Regions from separate parts of the Homo sapiens genome. Here region 2 is linked to region 1. Evidence: fine-mapped expression QTL. Tissue or cell type: whole blood. Region 1 holds a variant in brackets; the other region holds the start of a gene. All regions are shown on one strand. Distances are between the middles of the regions.

Region 1 (8,103 bases):
AATGAACAGAGGGGCCAGAGGTACAAGCCAATGTCCTCTGCAGCCACCCTCAAAAGAGTATCAAAAAGCGTATTGTCTCAGGAGTATCAGGCCACCGCCCCATAACCTCAGATGTGACCAGGCCTGAAGGATCTCCTTCTACCTGTGCGTCCCTGCACCTCTCACTTTATCTTACCCAGTGGGCGCACTGCCGCTGGGGTGGGGTCACAGAGGAGGCCTTGAATCAATGCTGGGTTGTAGGTTGAACAAACTTCACAAGACTAGAAAATAAGTAATAGAGAGGTACTTGTTTTTTTCACATTGCCAGAGTCTCACATTTCCCTCTCTGTCTGAGTTTTCCCAAGCCCACAAGGGATGGTCGTGGGCTGACTGATGACACCCAGGCTCTCGGGGTCTGAAGAAAAGCAAAAGAAAGGCCCCTGTTCTCTGGTCCCAACCACAAACATGAGGGCACTAAATAATTCCACAACTACACCATCTTCAGAATCAGAGCACTAGGAAGGAGAGAGCTATTACTCATTTTGACCAGGAAGCCTTGTTTTATTTAGCAATGAGTATTTGCTAAGCGTATCTTCTACTCAATAGAACACCCTCACCATGTTTCTGTGAGACCAGAGTGATCCCCATTTTATACTGGAGGAACACAAGGTGTATGAGAAATGTGCCCAAGATCTCAATACTAGTGACTCGGAGAGCCAGGGTTTGAGCCCAGATCAGTCTGATACTGAGACCTGTGCTCTCTCTGTATATAGTATGCAAGAACTATCATTTCTTCAAAGTCTGAGCTGAATGGAAGCTCTCATAAGAGATTATTTTCAGAAGCTCCGTGTCTTAGCCAAGGGAGTAAGTGAATTAACACACTGGACTCCAAAATCCAGCTCTGTTATAAAGTAGTCATAGTAGCCACGTGGCCTTGGGCCAATCAAGTCATCACTCAGGACCCCAATTCTTTTTGGCATTTACAAAAGGAGAAAGCGGAGCTGGAGGATGGATCCGACCCCTTCCAGCTCCCATGGCTGGGAGGTTTTCCATCTCTCCCATAGAGAGGCTAGCCCAGACTGAACCAGAACGTTTTTTTCCTGACTAACGGTTTCTAGGAAAGAGGCTCATGCTGGCTGGCTCTCAGGCTCAACCCTGGTCCAATCCACTGTCAGCAGGACGGGGTCAAGCAGGTACTAACTTGGCTGGCTGCTTGTGGGTGATAACGAGTTATTGTGAAGGACTCTTGGGCCCTCTGATAGCTGCCTGACAATGCCCAACCAGAACAGTAAAGATCCACCAAGCCAGCCGCTCCGGGCCACATGCAACTTCAAGGACCACTTTGTGCATCTGCACCAAGGCTCCCTCTGTTTTGAGAAAGGAGAGCTCGTCGGTCCCATATTCCTCCGCAGTCCTTGCAAATCCTCTCACCTGGCAGGAAAGCCACTTAGGGTTGTTGTATAAGAGGAGGAGGCACAGCGGAGACCAGCTTTGTTGGCAGAGAGCTTACCTTTCCTGAAAGTCAGCGCTGAAAGATCAAAAGTCACTGAGGACCCTGCTGACTCCCCCACACCAACTCACAAAACCAACAACCCGTGGTGGGCAGGGCCTGAGAGAGGAAAGTGAACGATATCCTGCAAAAGTCTGCTAGGGGGTGGCTTCGTCTCAGTTGCAAGGCTGCTGAATAGGTAGGTAGGTAAAGGCCATGGGGAGAATCAGCATTTGGAACTCTTCCCTGGGTGCAGCGCCCCTGCCCGCATTGCCTGCAAGGCAAACCCCGCCTTCTCCCGCAGCCTCCCACTCCGCCCAAGCAGCCCAGGGACAGAGGCTGCAGGATTCTGACACAGGAAGTCTACAGTCACTGGGAGCCTCTCCAAGATACAGCCTGTGTGAAGGAAAAGGTCTGGACAAGGAGAGGAACAGTAAAGAGAAACAAAAGTCCTCGGTTTGAATGAGGAGAGATTTTGAGCCCGCAGCGGGTTGCGGGGTGGAGGATGGCGGAAGGGGCAGATGCCGTTACCGGGTTCTGTTTCTCTTTCGCTGGCCACCTTGTTAAGCTCCCATTGGCCAGGTGTCCGGAGTGGGACTCACCACTGCAGGGGGCTCCAGCCCCACACAGCCGCCTCCCAGGAAGGACTCAGGTGGGCTTTCAGGTTATCCGCGGTGGGATGCAGGGGTGAAGGAAGCTTTGGTGGTGGATGTGAGAATTTGGGATGGGGGTGTGGAACTTTACTGGCTCCTGCCATGCAGCGTGCACAGTGCTTTCTGCAGGATGGCATCGAAGGGGCTGGAGCTGGGGGGCAGCACGTCTCTGTCCTCAGACCACGGTGGAGGATGTGGACTGTCCAGGCTCCAAGCTGTCCATCCCTCAGTGCCATGACCTAACCGTTAAGTGGGATGGAGCATGGGAGGGGAACGCAACTGCACCTTTCAGAGAGAGGCCCTCTGAGCAGGAAGAGTGGCTGCAGTAGAAAAGATGTGGCTGAGAAGGGGAAGAAAGAGCCTCGCGAGCATCAGCACTAGGAGAGGCAATTGATTTCATCCTGTGAGTCTCAGGGGAGTGGAGGCTGCCCCTTCCAAAAGAACTGGCAGGACTGGCCATGAGCCAAGTAGGGAACAGCTGCTGCTGACTGAGGGAGAAGCTGTGCAGCCTCGGGCAATTCAGTCAACCTCTCTCGGCCAAGGACAATATAATAATGCCTGCTTTACTGACCTTAGTGAATTGTTACGATGTTCAATGGTGAAAGAGAGTTGTAAAATGTGAAGTGCAATTAAATGTATAGGTGCGATATTATCAGCAGAACTTCTTGGGCTGGAGGTACCCAACTATGGCTGCACACAAGAACCTCTAGAGACTTTTTTTTTTTTAAATCCTGAACTTGGAAACCACCCTAGATCAGTTATTCAAATTAGGGCAGGCAGTGAGCAGAAGGACAGGAAGTGGTACTTTTTTCAAAAGAATCTGGTGATGCTGATATCCTATGAAGGTTGAGACCTGCTACCTAAGACTTCCCCAAAATCCATGAAGGTGATCACTCAGAGCACATGTTTTTTAAAAAGGCATATTCTCAGGCTTCTCCCAGATCTTCTGAATCAAAATTTCAAGGGGTCCTGGCAACCTCTATATTTAGCGAGCAATAAGAGCAATGTGGACACGTTATGCCAGTGAAAAGTTTGTCGATTAGCTCCTTTTCTACTGGATAATCATATCCAGCAATGCTTCTGGACAGCACAGGCAAATCAGCTCAAGGAGGGGAAGCACCCTCCTCAGACGGTAAGTACAGACATGCTTTGGGGGGATGGGGTTACAGTAGACAGCCAAATCCCATCCTATTCCTGCTCCACCGGGGTGAAACTCCAATTATAAAATGACACATTTCCCAGCCAACGTGCCTGGGAACCTTAAGATAAAAAGGAAACGATGATGAGTTATCTATAACTAACAGCATCAATTATGAGTGCTTTATTGTGTCAATAGATTGTTCAGGCTTTCTTGCTTCACACACTGCGGACTCTGTTCCATTCATAAAATTATACAAACACTTGCATATCCATGCACATGCACTCACAAACACAGAGACCCCAAGCTCGTCAAACACACAAATGGGAGGACGAAGAGGATGACAGGAGCCGGTGAACTCTTATCAGGCAACTGCATTACTCCGTTCTAGCATTATTTGCAGGATTCCATGCTACATTAGCGATGTTCCCAGGTAACAGGACCCCAGGGATTCTTCATTTTAGCTCTTTCATCCCACAGGGGCAACACTAGTTTAGCAGATAAGAGCACGACTCTGGAGCCAGACTGCCCAGGCTGAAATCCTACCACCCCACTTACTGGCTGTGTGTGACTCTGGGCAAGCTACTTCTGTGAAATGGAGATAATAACGGGGCAACTGGGACGATTAAATGCGCTGGTACACATAAGCCCTTAGAGACATGCCTGGCAAACAAGATGCTATGTGAGTGTCCGCTGCTATCAGTGATTGTTGTTTCTGTTGTTGTTTTACTATAGGTGAGAAAGGTGATACCTAGAAAATTAATTGCTCACTTTGTTTACATCTCTTGACTCTTTTAGGAGTATAGCCAAGGAAGGAGTCATAAATGTGAACAAATATCTACACTACAAGTGTTCGTTGTAGCACCGTTCATTAGAAGCAACCTGAACGTCCAATAGGAAGTGGGTTACCAAAAGAATGCTGCATCTCCATGACGGCTATGTAGTAATTGCATGAGAAAACTAGAGACATAATATGAAGCTTTTCAGATGAAATGCTGAATGATCTCTATAGATATACAGATACAGACATAGACAAAGTTAGTCTGGGGGAGAAATACAACCAAGTTCCAACACTGAGTGTCTCTATAGAGATACAGATACAGACATAGACAAAGTTAGTCTGGGGGAGAAATACAACCGAGTTCCAACACTGAGTGTCTCTATAGAGATACAGATACAGACATAGACAAAGTTAGTCTGGGGGAGAAATACAACCGAGTTCCAACACTGAGTGTCTCTGGTGGGGGGGTTATGGGATTTTTATTTTCTCCCTTATACTTTTCTAAATTGGGGTAATTTTCGATGATGAGCAGATATTCCTTTTAGAGTCTGAAAATAAAGCGTTCAATTGAAGCAACTTACTCAAGGTCAAACAGCACATTAGGAGCCCACACAGGCTTCCTATCCCTGTCCAGGGACTGTGAGGCTTCGTGAGGCTGCACTAAGAGTAGGAAGGAAAGCTGAGAGGGATGAGAATGATGAACACACACCGAAAAGCAGCAGGACCTTGGTGGAGCTGTGCAGGGCTAAGCCCCAGCTCGGAA[G/C]CTTCCCAGGGCAGAGCTGTGAGGGCAGAGCTAGACACTTTTCCATCCCAGAGCCACTTTGCGGCACAGTGAGGTGACCTAGGCACTACAATCGAATGCCTGCCCTTGGGGCTGCTCACTGCTGTCTCCCAGAAATGGAAGAAGCCAGCTTCTACTTTGTCTAAGGATACCAGAGAGTAACACCAACCTTTCTTTCCTTTGTCCTTTCTACAGACTTCTTCCTCTAGTGTGGAATCTGAGACCCAGGGAATACTGGTTCGCATCCCTGCTGGGCTGCACTCCCCTGCTTCTCCTTAATATAGAAATGTCTTTTCTTGCCCAGCATTTTCCCCATCATAATGCCAAGGTGCTTGAAACGGCCAAAACCAAGGAATGTTTATTTTGCAACACCGAAATAAAGAAGGATCTGGAATCACTTAATAACTAGGATAGGCTTCATCTAAGAAAAATAGAAAGGAAGGAGGGAAGGAGGAGGGAAGGGCGAGAGAAAGGAAGGAAGGAGGGAAGGAAGGAAGGAGGAAGGAAGGAAGGAAGGAAGGAGGGAAGGAAGGAAGGAAGGAGGGAAGGAAGGAAAGAAGGAGGGAAGGAAAGAACGAGGGAGAGAGGGAGGGAGGAAAAGAAGGAAAGAAGGAGGAAGGAGGGAAGAGAGAGGGGACGATGGAGGGGAGGAGGGAGGAAAAGACGTAGGGAAGGAAGCAAAGAGAGGGAGGAGGGAGGAGAGGAGGAAAGGAAGGAGGGAGGAAGGAATAGAGGCAGAAAGGAAGAAGAAGGAAGACGTTTATCATTGCTTGACAGTAGATAAAAACTATTGTCTCTCTTTCAAAACTTTGCTACAACCTACTCAGTATATTTTTAAATGTAAGTTCTGATCTTTGTAAAATAATAGACTGGAGTATATGAGCTCTGAAATTCAGTGATTCTACATAAAGTTGAAAACCTAGTAACTCCAACTCTCTTTTTCAAAGATCACTCCAGTGGCAAAAGCCAAGCAATAAAGTCTGTCAAGTTTTCAGGCAGCCAGCTGCACATCTGATTAATACACTTGGGTATCCGCAGAATTTTCAAGCAGAAACCCAGTCGTTGAATCCAATGACCTCACTTTACAGTGAAGACTCTGGTGGGAGAACAATACTAATGGCTACCATTTGCTGAGGGCCAGGCAGGTGACATGTGTAGGGTCACACAGCAGGTTAGTGACAGACCCAGAATTGGATGCAATCCTCACCCACCCCACAGTCCACTTCTTCTGACTTTTAGTGGCTTTAATACCAGAAACTTTTCCTCATGGCTCAAGATGTACAGAAAAGGAATCGGTACAAAGGCAACAACAGGACAAGAGCAATTCCCTCCTTTCTGCTTTTGCCTCTGAGCACAGAAGGGACACCATGGAAGAAGGAATTTCAGCCTGGACCAGTTGGTGAGGAGCAGACAGCAAACCTCAGGCCTTGCTAGATGAGCAGAGGAGGGTCAGAGGTAAGAGCCCTCAGCAGCACCAAAACAAAACAAAACAAAACAAACAAACAAAAAACACCTAGAAGAAAACAGCTTTCCAGGAGACTGAAATCCAAGCACCAGAGGAACCAGGTCCAACTGTGGTGTGTCAGCACCAAAAATGCCTTGGGAGAAAGGACAAATGTCACACTTGAAAACAGTGTTTAGGAAGATGGAAAAGAATACTGAGAAAACCTGGTTACATACAACTCACTGCTGGTATTTGCATCTTTCTCAGATTGTGAGTAAGATTTCATAAATAGGATAGTGAGTAAAGGTTATCATCAATGTTTTCATCAAAAGGTTTTAGTTAGAAAAGTGATCGTAAAAAAATCCATGTTACAATTTTTGATTTGGTTAACAACGTGCATAGGAATTGGCTGTTACAGTGTAAGGCAAAAGCCATGCAGACGACCTCATTTGCCTGGCAGAGTGCATCAGAGCTGTGGACATTTCCTAGCAAGGTAGCTCTAAACCTAACAAATAAGACCAACTCTTACTGTTATTTTCTCAAAGACTTCTATTTAAGAAGACTTATAAGGACTATAGGGAAGAGGATGTGTTTTATCACATTACTCAGTGCCTTATCAAAACCACTTCCGTTTCTGAACAACTCAAGAGGGGTGTGAAGAACTTTAAGAAGGTTGATAAGAAGCCACAGAATGGTCCAACTGAAAAAACCTTTCATGGCTGAGGGTCCATGCACTCAAATCCATTGCAACAAGCTTCAGATCTCTTCGAGTTTTCCAAAATGTATTTGTTGGATGAGTTTTGGGGGTATGTGAGCAGACATTACTATAAAAGGGGGATGGAGATTCTGTGGTAAAAATTTTTAAAAATGTAAGAAGTTGAAAAACACTGGTTTAAAGAAGTGAAATAGTTTTACTGCTGCAGGACTTCTCAGAGCCTTTAATTTCATGTTCAGATGCATTGTGCATCTCCAAGAGGCAGCATTTCTGAAACATAGTGCCTGGGGATTCTTTCTCCATGGAAAGTTGCGTAGGACTGATGTTCTGCAGATCACATTTGAGGAACTCTGGCATGAGTTATTCTAGGTAACATGGTCACTTGAGTATCCATTTCAGCAGAAGACAAAACAGGAGGAAGGAAGTTTAAAGTGCAGCAGGAGATGTGTAACTGAGAAATGAGGAAAACATCCTGACAAAGGGTGCTCAAACACAAGTAGCTTGAAGGAGTCTATATTATGGATTCTCTTTCTCTGGGCATTTTTCAGAATAAGCCTGGAATAATCTAGACATTTTTCTAATACACAGCAAGGCAATTAATTCCATGACTTTTAGAATTCTCTTCCTGCTCAATTATTTCATGTCATCTGTCCTTATTCTCTATTGATATATTAAGTGAGTTCAGCTGACTGGCTTGCAAATTAAAGACATCCCTGAAATGTTGAAGGTAAAGCCAATACATCCTCTGTAAGTTGAGTCTGTTTTCCACAGATTGGTATTATAATTGCAAAGAAAAGTGTTGACCTTACGCATCGGGGAGGAAGCATCCTACCTACACCCTTGTGCATTTCTTCCCGTTCATTCTCCCGCTTACGGCAGCCCACAGGTCAGCCAAGTGAATAGCTGAGTCATGAGATGCTTCCACACTCAGTCATTCAACCTCTCTGTGGATTCCCAAGTTTTCTGGAAGTTCTCGCTGATCTCGGGGATTCTCAATGGGTAAGTCACTTCATTGCTCATGTTCTTTCTTTAGGAATTTAACAAAATCCCTGGATATTCTCTGCTGCTGGCTTTTTTAGCAAGGAAACAGTTTCACTCTAAGAAGGTAGTAAGCCCCTTTACA
Region 2 (8,086 bases), 110 kb after region 1:
ATTCGGGAAACACTGCCTTAACTCAAAAGAATGAACAGATAGTGATAGACCCAGGCAGAGGATGTTTTATGCAGAAGATGCCCTCCAGGATCCATGACGTCATCTATTATTTACCTCACCTTTCCACCCAGTAAGATTTGTGCTGGAGTATCTTAGCATATGCACCTTGAACTCCCTCAAGCTCAATCTGTGAACTCAGCAAAAAGAGAGAAAAAGTAACCATTTTAGTGTTTAGTGATGATGACATTCTTCAGCACTAAATCCCACCATGGTGATCAAGGCACTCTGACATAGGATCTACTTTGTTTCTACTAATCCTCCCTTAAGCCCACACTAAACTTCAACCAGACTGACAGGATCACGTGTAGCCTGTCCAGCATCTTTCTACAAGTTAGAAGAAGGCATCCTTTTTTTCTGAATGATTGCAACTCAGGGTCAGCAGCTTGGTGAGGGGACAGCCCCATCGTGTGAATTTTCTCCGGGTAGATGCATCTCGTGCCACAGCACATGGCTTGGCAAGCAGAACGTGTGTGCTGGATTTCAGATCCATATACAGCCCCCAAGAGGGAAGCAGGGGAGTCCTGTGACTGGGAGGAGAACATGTTTGTAAAGTGACGTAAGACTGGCCCAAAAAGAAGGAAAAGGAGAAAGAGAATCACCTCTTCAAGTGGTTAAGACAAAAAGAGGATAGTCGAAAAAACTTGGGCAAAAAGTAAATGGTAGGTCTCTCAAAGGAGGCTCATGTGAACACCATGCATACTTGTTCAGGTAGAAAAAAGAAGTGAGAGCATACTGTTTACAGTGTCCCAGATGGAACACTATGGTTATTCATACTTTTCTGTCCTAAGCATACAGGGGCCACAGGGTGGTACTGGGTTCTTCCTACCTCTGAGCTCCTCTGCGTTCTTCCTTGGGGGGATATCTGATTTTCTCTTTCACTCATGGCTATCAGTGGGAGCTGGTTTGGACCTGGCCATCCTAAAGTCAATTTGAGGAAATGCACAATCCGGTAGTATGAATACAGTGTCACTAGGTTATCCCCATAACTTATACTGAAACTTTCCAAGCCCCAAAACAGACACATCCATTGACATTCCCCTAGTGGGGCTTTTATGAACCCTGAGGGAGGTTCCAGAAAACTGGCTTAGAGTCATTGATCCCTCCCTCAATAGGGATATAATTATTATTGTTTGCATTTGCTCTTGGTAGCTTACATGATTCAACTAAGTATCCTTATTGACTTCTGATTTTTTTTTTTTTTTTTTTTTTTTTTTGAGACGGAGTCTCGCTCTGTCACCCGGGCTGGAGTGCAGTGGCACGATCTCAGCTCACTGCAACCTCCACCTCCCAGATTCACGCCATTCTCCTGCCTCAGCTTCCCGAGTAGCTGGGACTACAGGCGCCCGCCACCACGCCCAGCTAATTTTTTGTATTTTTCTAGAGACGGGGTTTCACCGTGTTAGCCAGGATGGTCTCGATCTCCTGACCTCGTGATCCACCCGCCTCGGCCTTCCAAAGTGCTAGGATTACAGGCGTGAGCCACCGCGCCCGGCCGACTTCTGATTTTTTTAAATCTTCCTGGAATCCTGGAGGCAATGAGCAAACAGGATGAAGGGTAATTAAACAGGCTTTTAGTTATAGGAAGCTCTGTGGAAAAAAAAAAAAAAAAAAAGCATTGGTGATCTAGAAACAGGGCCCAGAAGACTTTTTGAGGTTCAACTCAGGTGGTAGTGAGTCTCTGACATCACAACATTTCAGAGCGAATAAAATGTGGGAGCACCAAGAATAACAAGAAAGATCTTTGCAAAAAAGGAAAGAGGAGTAAACCAGATGGCTCTGGCTGGCTCCTCATGGCACATTGTGTCCTAGCTGATGGAAAGAATAGCAGGGCTTTGGGTAGAACTCCTGCCATTTTACGGCTTGAGGAGGCTGAGCCAGTGTGATGAGCCTTGGGGATGGGTGAGACAGTCCTGGTGTGGTCTGGGTGCTCTGCCAAATAGTGAGGGTGGTGCTGGGGTCACCACCCTAGGTACACAGGCATCCTCCTGGTGAAGCTGCACCAAGCATATTTGCATGGGCAATGTCCGACCCACCCAGGTAAGCCAGGGCTTGTGGAGCTGATGATCTTCCCTCTGTTTCATCCACTCTCTTGCCCCGTATCACTCTTCCCTTCATCCCTGTCTGCCTGTCTTTTTCTCTCTCTTTCCTAGACACACCCACTCATTTATTCATCTATGGAATTTCGATGTATGAATAGAAATGAGTAGTGAATGAGACGTTCATGGAAACAGCACTTATGAAACTTGCTTTCCATAAAACTGTACCATAATAAAATATGATGAGTCTTATGAAGGAGGACGTGGAAGGTGCTATGGGTGCCTTAGGACTCCTCCTCTCTCCTTTTATTCTCTCCTTCTCTCCCATCACACTTTCCCTTCTTTTCTTCTTGTCTCCATACAAACTCTTTCACTCTCTCTCCCTGGACTCCCTCACTTCTCTGCTCCTTTCCTGTCCCAGCTCTTTTCTCCTCTCTCATCTCCCTTCTCACTCTCCTCGCTCTTTCCCTGATTTCTTCTCTCCCTTCCTTTTTCTCTTCCTGCCTTTCCTTCCACCCATCTCCCAGCCTCACCCTGAACCCTGACAATGCTCAGTTCTCATTTTAAAAGACACTTTCCCCAACTCCAGCCCCATGTGCACACACCTGGGCAGTCACATCCCTGCCCACACATAAAACACCTCCCTATGGGGTTCCAGCATTTGATCCCTGTTACCTGGGAGCAGGGGGAAATTGCTGCTTCCCTTGCTGAAGTTGGATGCACAGGCACATAAAATTCAGAGGCATTAGACTTCCATGGTGAGCCGGAATCACAAACAAACCCCAGAATGTGTTGAAATCTTACCCTTAAGTTTAAATGAGGAGGTTAAAATTTGGCACAGAGCAGTTTATAGATCACCTTCTGCATCTACTTCACAACCCTATTAGGTCAGGTTGATAACTATCACTATTGTTATCATCATCTCCATTTACAGACCAGGAACCTGAGGCTGAGAGAGAGAAGCACTTGCTCAAAGTCACACAACCACAATGGCACATCAGGATTCGATCTTAGGTCCTCTAACAAAGCCCTCATTAGTTCATGAAAGGAGCACACCGCAAAATGGAAGCGAGGCCCTTGCCCCAGAGATTGCCACCTCTCTTCAACAGCCCCTACCACACATAGGCGTGGGGAAAGGAAAGAGAGATCAGATTGTTACTGTGTCTGTGTAGAAAGAACTAGACATAGGAGACTCCATTTTGTTCTGTACTAAGAAAAATTCTTCTGCCTTGAGATGCTGTTAATCTGTAACCGTACCCCCAACCCCGTGCTCCCTGAAACATGTGCTGTGTCGACTCAGGGTTAAATGGATTAAGGGCTATGCAAGATGTGCTTTGTTAAACAGATGCTTGAAGGCAGCATGCTCGTTAAGAGTCATCACCACTCCCTAATCTCAAGTACCCAGGGACACAAAACACTGCGGAAGGCCACAGGGACCTCTGCCTAGGAAAGCCAGGTATTGTCCAAGGTTTCTCCCCATGTGACCATCTGAAATATGGCCTCGTGGGAAGGGAAAGACCTGACTGTCCCCCAGCCCGACACCCGTAAAGGGTCTGTGCTGAGGAGGATTAGTAAAAGAGGAAGGAACGCCTTTCTGCAGTTGAGACAAGAGGAAGGCATCTGTCTCCTGCCCGTCCCTGGGCAATGGAATGTCTCGGTGTAAAACCCGATTGTATATTCCATCTACTGAGATAGGAGAAAACCGCCTTAGGGCTGGAGGTGGGACATGCGGGCAGCAATACTGCTGTTTAAGGCATTGAGATGTTTATGTGTATGCATATCTAAAGCACAGCACTTAATTCTTTACCTTGTCTATGATGCAGAGACCTTTGTTCACGTGTTTATCTGCTGACCTTCTCTCCACTATTATCCTATGACCCTGACACATCCCCCTCTCCGAGAAACACCCAAGAATGATCAATAAATACTAAGGGAACTCAGAGGCTGGCGGGATCCTCCGTATGCTGAACGCTGGTCCCCTGGGCCCCCTTATTTCTCTCTACATACTTTGTTTCTGTGTCTTTTTCTCTTCCAAAGTCTCTCGTTCCACCTAACGAGAAACACCCACAGGTGTGGAGGTGCAACCCACCCCTTCAATAGGCCTAAGGACAGGTCTATGGCCCTTGGGATTCTTATTCTTCTCGTTGCCTGCACATATGTAGATATAATGATAATGCATGTGCACAAGCCCACACACGCATACACACACACATGCTCACCTCCCCCATACTGCTTGCTCTAATTTCCACTTCTACTCACTTCATTCTCAATACCCATCTCCCATTTGAAGGCACAGAATTCAGTGTCAGATGCTTCAATGAGCGACTGAGATGAAAATGTGACCTCTCACCCATTTTTCCTTCCATATCCCTTTTTCCTAAGTGCCCCAAACACACACACCCACACACACACCTTCCAGGTTAGCATTGTAAACTTACTCAGATCCTGCAATTCCACCTCCAAGTGGGAGAGTCTCTTTATCACTGCCCCGTAGCGTTTATTCAGATGTAAAGGAAGCTCCCTGTGGAGACCACCCGTAAACAGGTTTTGTAAAGTCCCCTTGCTAGAAAATACCAGAAGGAGATTGACAGCAATGGCCAGAGTCAGCCCAATGAAGAGGGCTTTGGGGAGTTTCCTCCAAAACATCATCTTCTTCCTGGGGGTCGTCCACTCCCTGTGGGACTGAGTGTGTCACTGCTGGAGCAGGTTAAGAATCAGAACCAGCCTAGCTTTTGTGGGAAAGAGAGTTCTAGGTGCCAGTTGAGTTGGTCTCCCCTGTGTGAGACACCCATGGGAAGCCACGGGTGGCCTCTGAGGAGCAAAGTCTCCTTATTGCCTTCTTTGTCTTTATGCCCCGAGAGGATAACCGCTCAGCGGCTTTCCACAGGTTGCTCAGCGGCTTTCCACAGGTTGCTCAGGGAGATAACACTCCCTTGAAGCAGAGGAGTATAATCAAACATCTTGGCTCCTCCTGAAACCCACTCCCACCCATTTCAGTCATTAAAGATCTTAAGTAGTTTAGACACACGCCTTTGCTCAAGGAAATTCACAGAAACCGCCACTGTTACACATCTTATCGAATGACTCACTGATTAATCCTTTTCCTCATCCCTTCCTCCCCTTCCCATCTGCCCTAAGAACAAAGAGCTTGTAAACCAATAAATTGGGTGGAGCCCAGAGCTCTGGGCCGTGAGCAAGCCTCCAACGCTCTGGTCCCCTGGACCTGCCTTTTAAACGCTTGTTCTGTCTCTTTCTAACTCCTTTGTCTCCGCCGGACTCGGGGTATCCGCTGGGTGGTGTGGGGCTGGTTTCCCCAACAGCTTTCTCTCCACCCAGCTTCATAGATGACACCCTGCCTGCTAGGCCAGATGTTCTCCGGCCAAGAACACTATTATAGCTGCCTGGCTTCTCCCTGAGCAGCGTCAGGTGTGAGGAGTGCGCATGGCAGCTGCCCAGTGACAGGTAAGTCACCTGGACACACCTTGTACTGTCTCAGAAGTCAGAAGAATGCTTGCTCCTGCAGCTAGCTCAGGCTGCCTGGGTGAGAGGCTTTTCTCTATATATGTTTGTTTGATGTTTAATGTTCTCTCTCCCTGGAAAAACCACCTGGGAGACTCTGATAGGGCATGTGAGGTCTGGTCCTGTGGGTATAAGAAGGGGATAAATAGGATGAAGAAGAAATCACGAAGCAAGAAGTCTCTGTACACTTAGATCCTTGCTTTTTTGGAGAGCTGGGATCTAAGATGTCTTTTTACCTAACTCTACAGGGTTTTGGACATAGTAGGTGTGCAACAAATGCTTGTCCCACAAACTTAAGGACAGACTTTCTTGCTAGTTCCTAGGACTTCACTGCCTAGAAGCAGGTGGAGAAGAGCTGGAGGCGGTGCCCGGGGTTGAGCCTCAGGGGATGACTCCGATTCACTGGTCTCTGTCCTTTGCTTGTCCTCTGCACAACTTCATACACTGGGCTTCTGCCCTGCCCCAGCTTCCAGTAACTCCTTTGCCTCCACACCTCACACTTATAATATGTTTTGGACAAATCACCAGTGATCATCATTGTAGAATAAACACATAAAATTGTTCCCCAAGGCTAAAAGTTCAAAGTTCTCAGTCTACTGTCAATCCCGTCAAAATCACAGCTTCCACCCCGGCCTGGCTCTTTGGACTATTTACTACGTCCCAAACACAGCACATGGTGACATGTGCTGAGGCGGACATGTGGATTAAAGGAAAGTAATGTGGCTTTAGGAAAAACAGGATGAAAATGAACAAAATGAAAAGGAATCACTTCTTCTGTTTCGCAGGGATAGAAAATGTCTCCCAGCCTCCCACTTGCAAATTAGACTCAAAACATAAGAAACGCATGATCCAGCCAGGCGCAGTGGCTCACGCCTGTAATCCCAGCACTTTGGGAGGCCGAGGCAGGTGGATCACCTGAGGTCAGGAGTTCAAGACCAGCCTGGCCAACATGGTGAAACGCCATCTCTACTAAAAATAACAAAATTAGCTGGGCATGGTGGCAGGCACCTGTAATCCGAGCGACTTGGGAGGCAGAGGCAGGAAAATCGCTTGAACCCAGGAGGCGGAGGTTGCAGTGAGTCGAGATCGCGCCACTGCACTCCAGCCTGGGCAACAAGAACAAAACTCCATCTCAAACAACAACAACAACAACTACAAAAAACAAACAAACAAAAAAGCATAACCCTTCTGCTTCTGGGACAAGAAGAAATACCTACATTTATCTTCTCTATTCCTTCCCATCAAGGCAAGTAAAAAGTACACATGATATGTAAAACAAACCTAAGAAGACTCTGAAAGGTAGAGAGAACAGGGCAGGCTGACTAGAGATCTCCAGATATCCTAGCTATTGTAGGAAATAGATTCCAAGTTGCTGGATGCTGGAGCAGTCAACAACTTGGAAATGCAATGGGCAGAGACAATAGAAGCCCCAAGAAAAAGCTGCTTTCTCTAACCAAAGAAACAGGAAATGGGAAGCCTAGCAAGACAGAAGATGTTTAGACAACAACTGCCCTACTCCAGCCAAATGCCACTGAAAACCTTGCAGTGCCATGCCCACCACATCCACAGAGGCCTCGTGGGGAGCCTAGACTTCCAACCTCACCCCAGCTGTGAGGGTTTGCCCCTGCATCCCCCACCTTCCCCTCCAGGGTGTGTCAGTGAAGGTCTCTTGGGGAGCTGGCATTTTTGTCATTGTCCCCACATGATATCAGTAAAGGAACAGTGGCCCTCCCCTTTTCAGCCAGTGTGGTGTCAGCAGAGGGCTAGTGGGGAACCTGAACTCCCTCCCTCACCCATCAGTAATGAGGCAGCCCTCCCCACCAGGTGTCAGTGGAGGCCAAGCATGGAACCTGGGCTTCCTCTCCCACCTGGCAGCGATGAGATGAAATCTCCCTCTCCCCACCAGAACAGTGTATGAAAGGCCTGCTAAAACAGATTTACATAGGATCCAGAGTCTCAAAAAGTTATATTCAGAATGGCCAAGATGCAATAGAAAATCACTTGTCATATCAACAACCAGGAAAATCTCAACTTGGAAGAGCCTATCAACAGACAGCAACACCAGCCGGGCATGGTGGCTCATGCCTGCAATCACAGCACTTTGGGAGGCTGAGGCAGGAGGAGGATGGCTTGATTCCCAGGAGTTTGAGAGCAGCTTGGGCAACATACTGAGACCCTGTTTCTACTAAAAAATAAACTTTTTTTTAAATTGGCATGGCATGGTGGCTCACACCTGTAATCCCAGCACTTTGGGAGGCTGAGGCAGGCAGATCACTTGAGCCCAGGAGTTCAAGACCAGCCTGAGCAACACGGTAAAACCCCATCTCTACAAAAAATTTAAAAAAATCAGCCAGGCATGGTGGCACATGCCTGTGGCCCAAACTACCCAGGATGCTAAGGTGGGAGGATCACCTGAGCCCAGGAGGTTGAAGCTGCAGCGAGCCATGATCGTGCCATTGCACTCCAGCCTG

Evidence for each region. PIP is the estimated chance that this variant, and not a neighbour inherited with it, causes the effect.
Region 2: GALNT8 starts here. The variant in region 1 is fine-mapped to the expression of GALNT8 in whole blood (INTERVAL, PIP 0.99). The same link has a PIP of 0.9 or more in T cells.

The regions. Positions count from the first base shown.
Region 1 is chr12:4,824,447-4,832,549 of GRCh38, reverse strand. It overlaps KCNA6-AS1 (KCNA6 antisense RNA 1), which reads left to right and starts at 1,779. Exons shown (of 3, transcript NR_199077.1): 1 at 1,779-2,120. It also overlaps a transcript of KCNA6 not described here. RefSeq lists enhancers at 1,800-2,301, 2,731-2,890, 2,951-3,140, 7,638-8,103 and a silencer at 6,841-7,041. The variant G/C (reference allele first, on the strand shown) is at 4,804.
Region 2 is chr12:4,717,337-4,725,422 of GRCh38, reverse strand. GALNT8 (polypeptide N-acetylgalactosaminyltransferase 8) reads right to left here and starts at 5,023. Exons shown (of 11, transcript NM_017417.2): 1 at 4,535-5,023. The coding sequence starts at 4,745. It overlaps GAU1 (GALNT8 antisense upstream 1), which reads left to right and starts at 5,321. Exons shown (of 4, transcript NR_110112.1): 1 at 5,321-5,558. RefSeq lists enhancers at 2,915-3,910, 3,911-4,906, 4,907-5,902.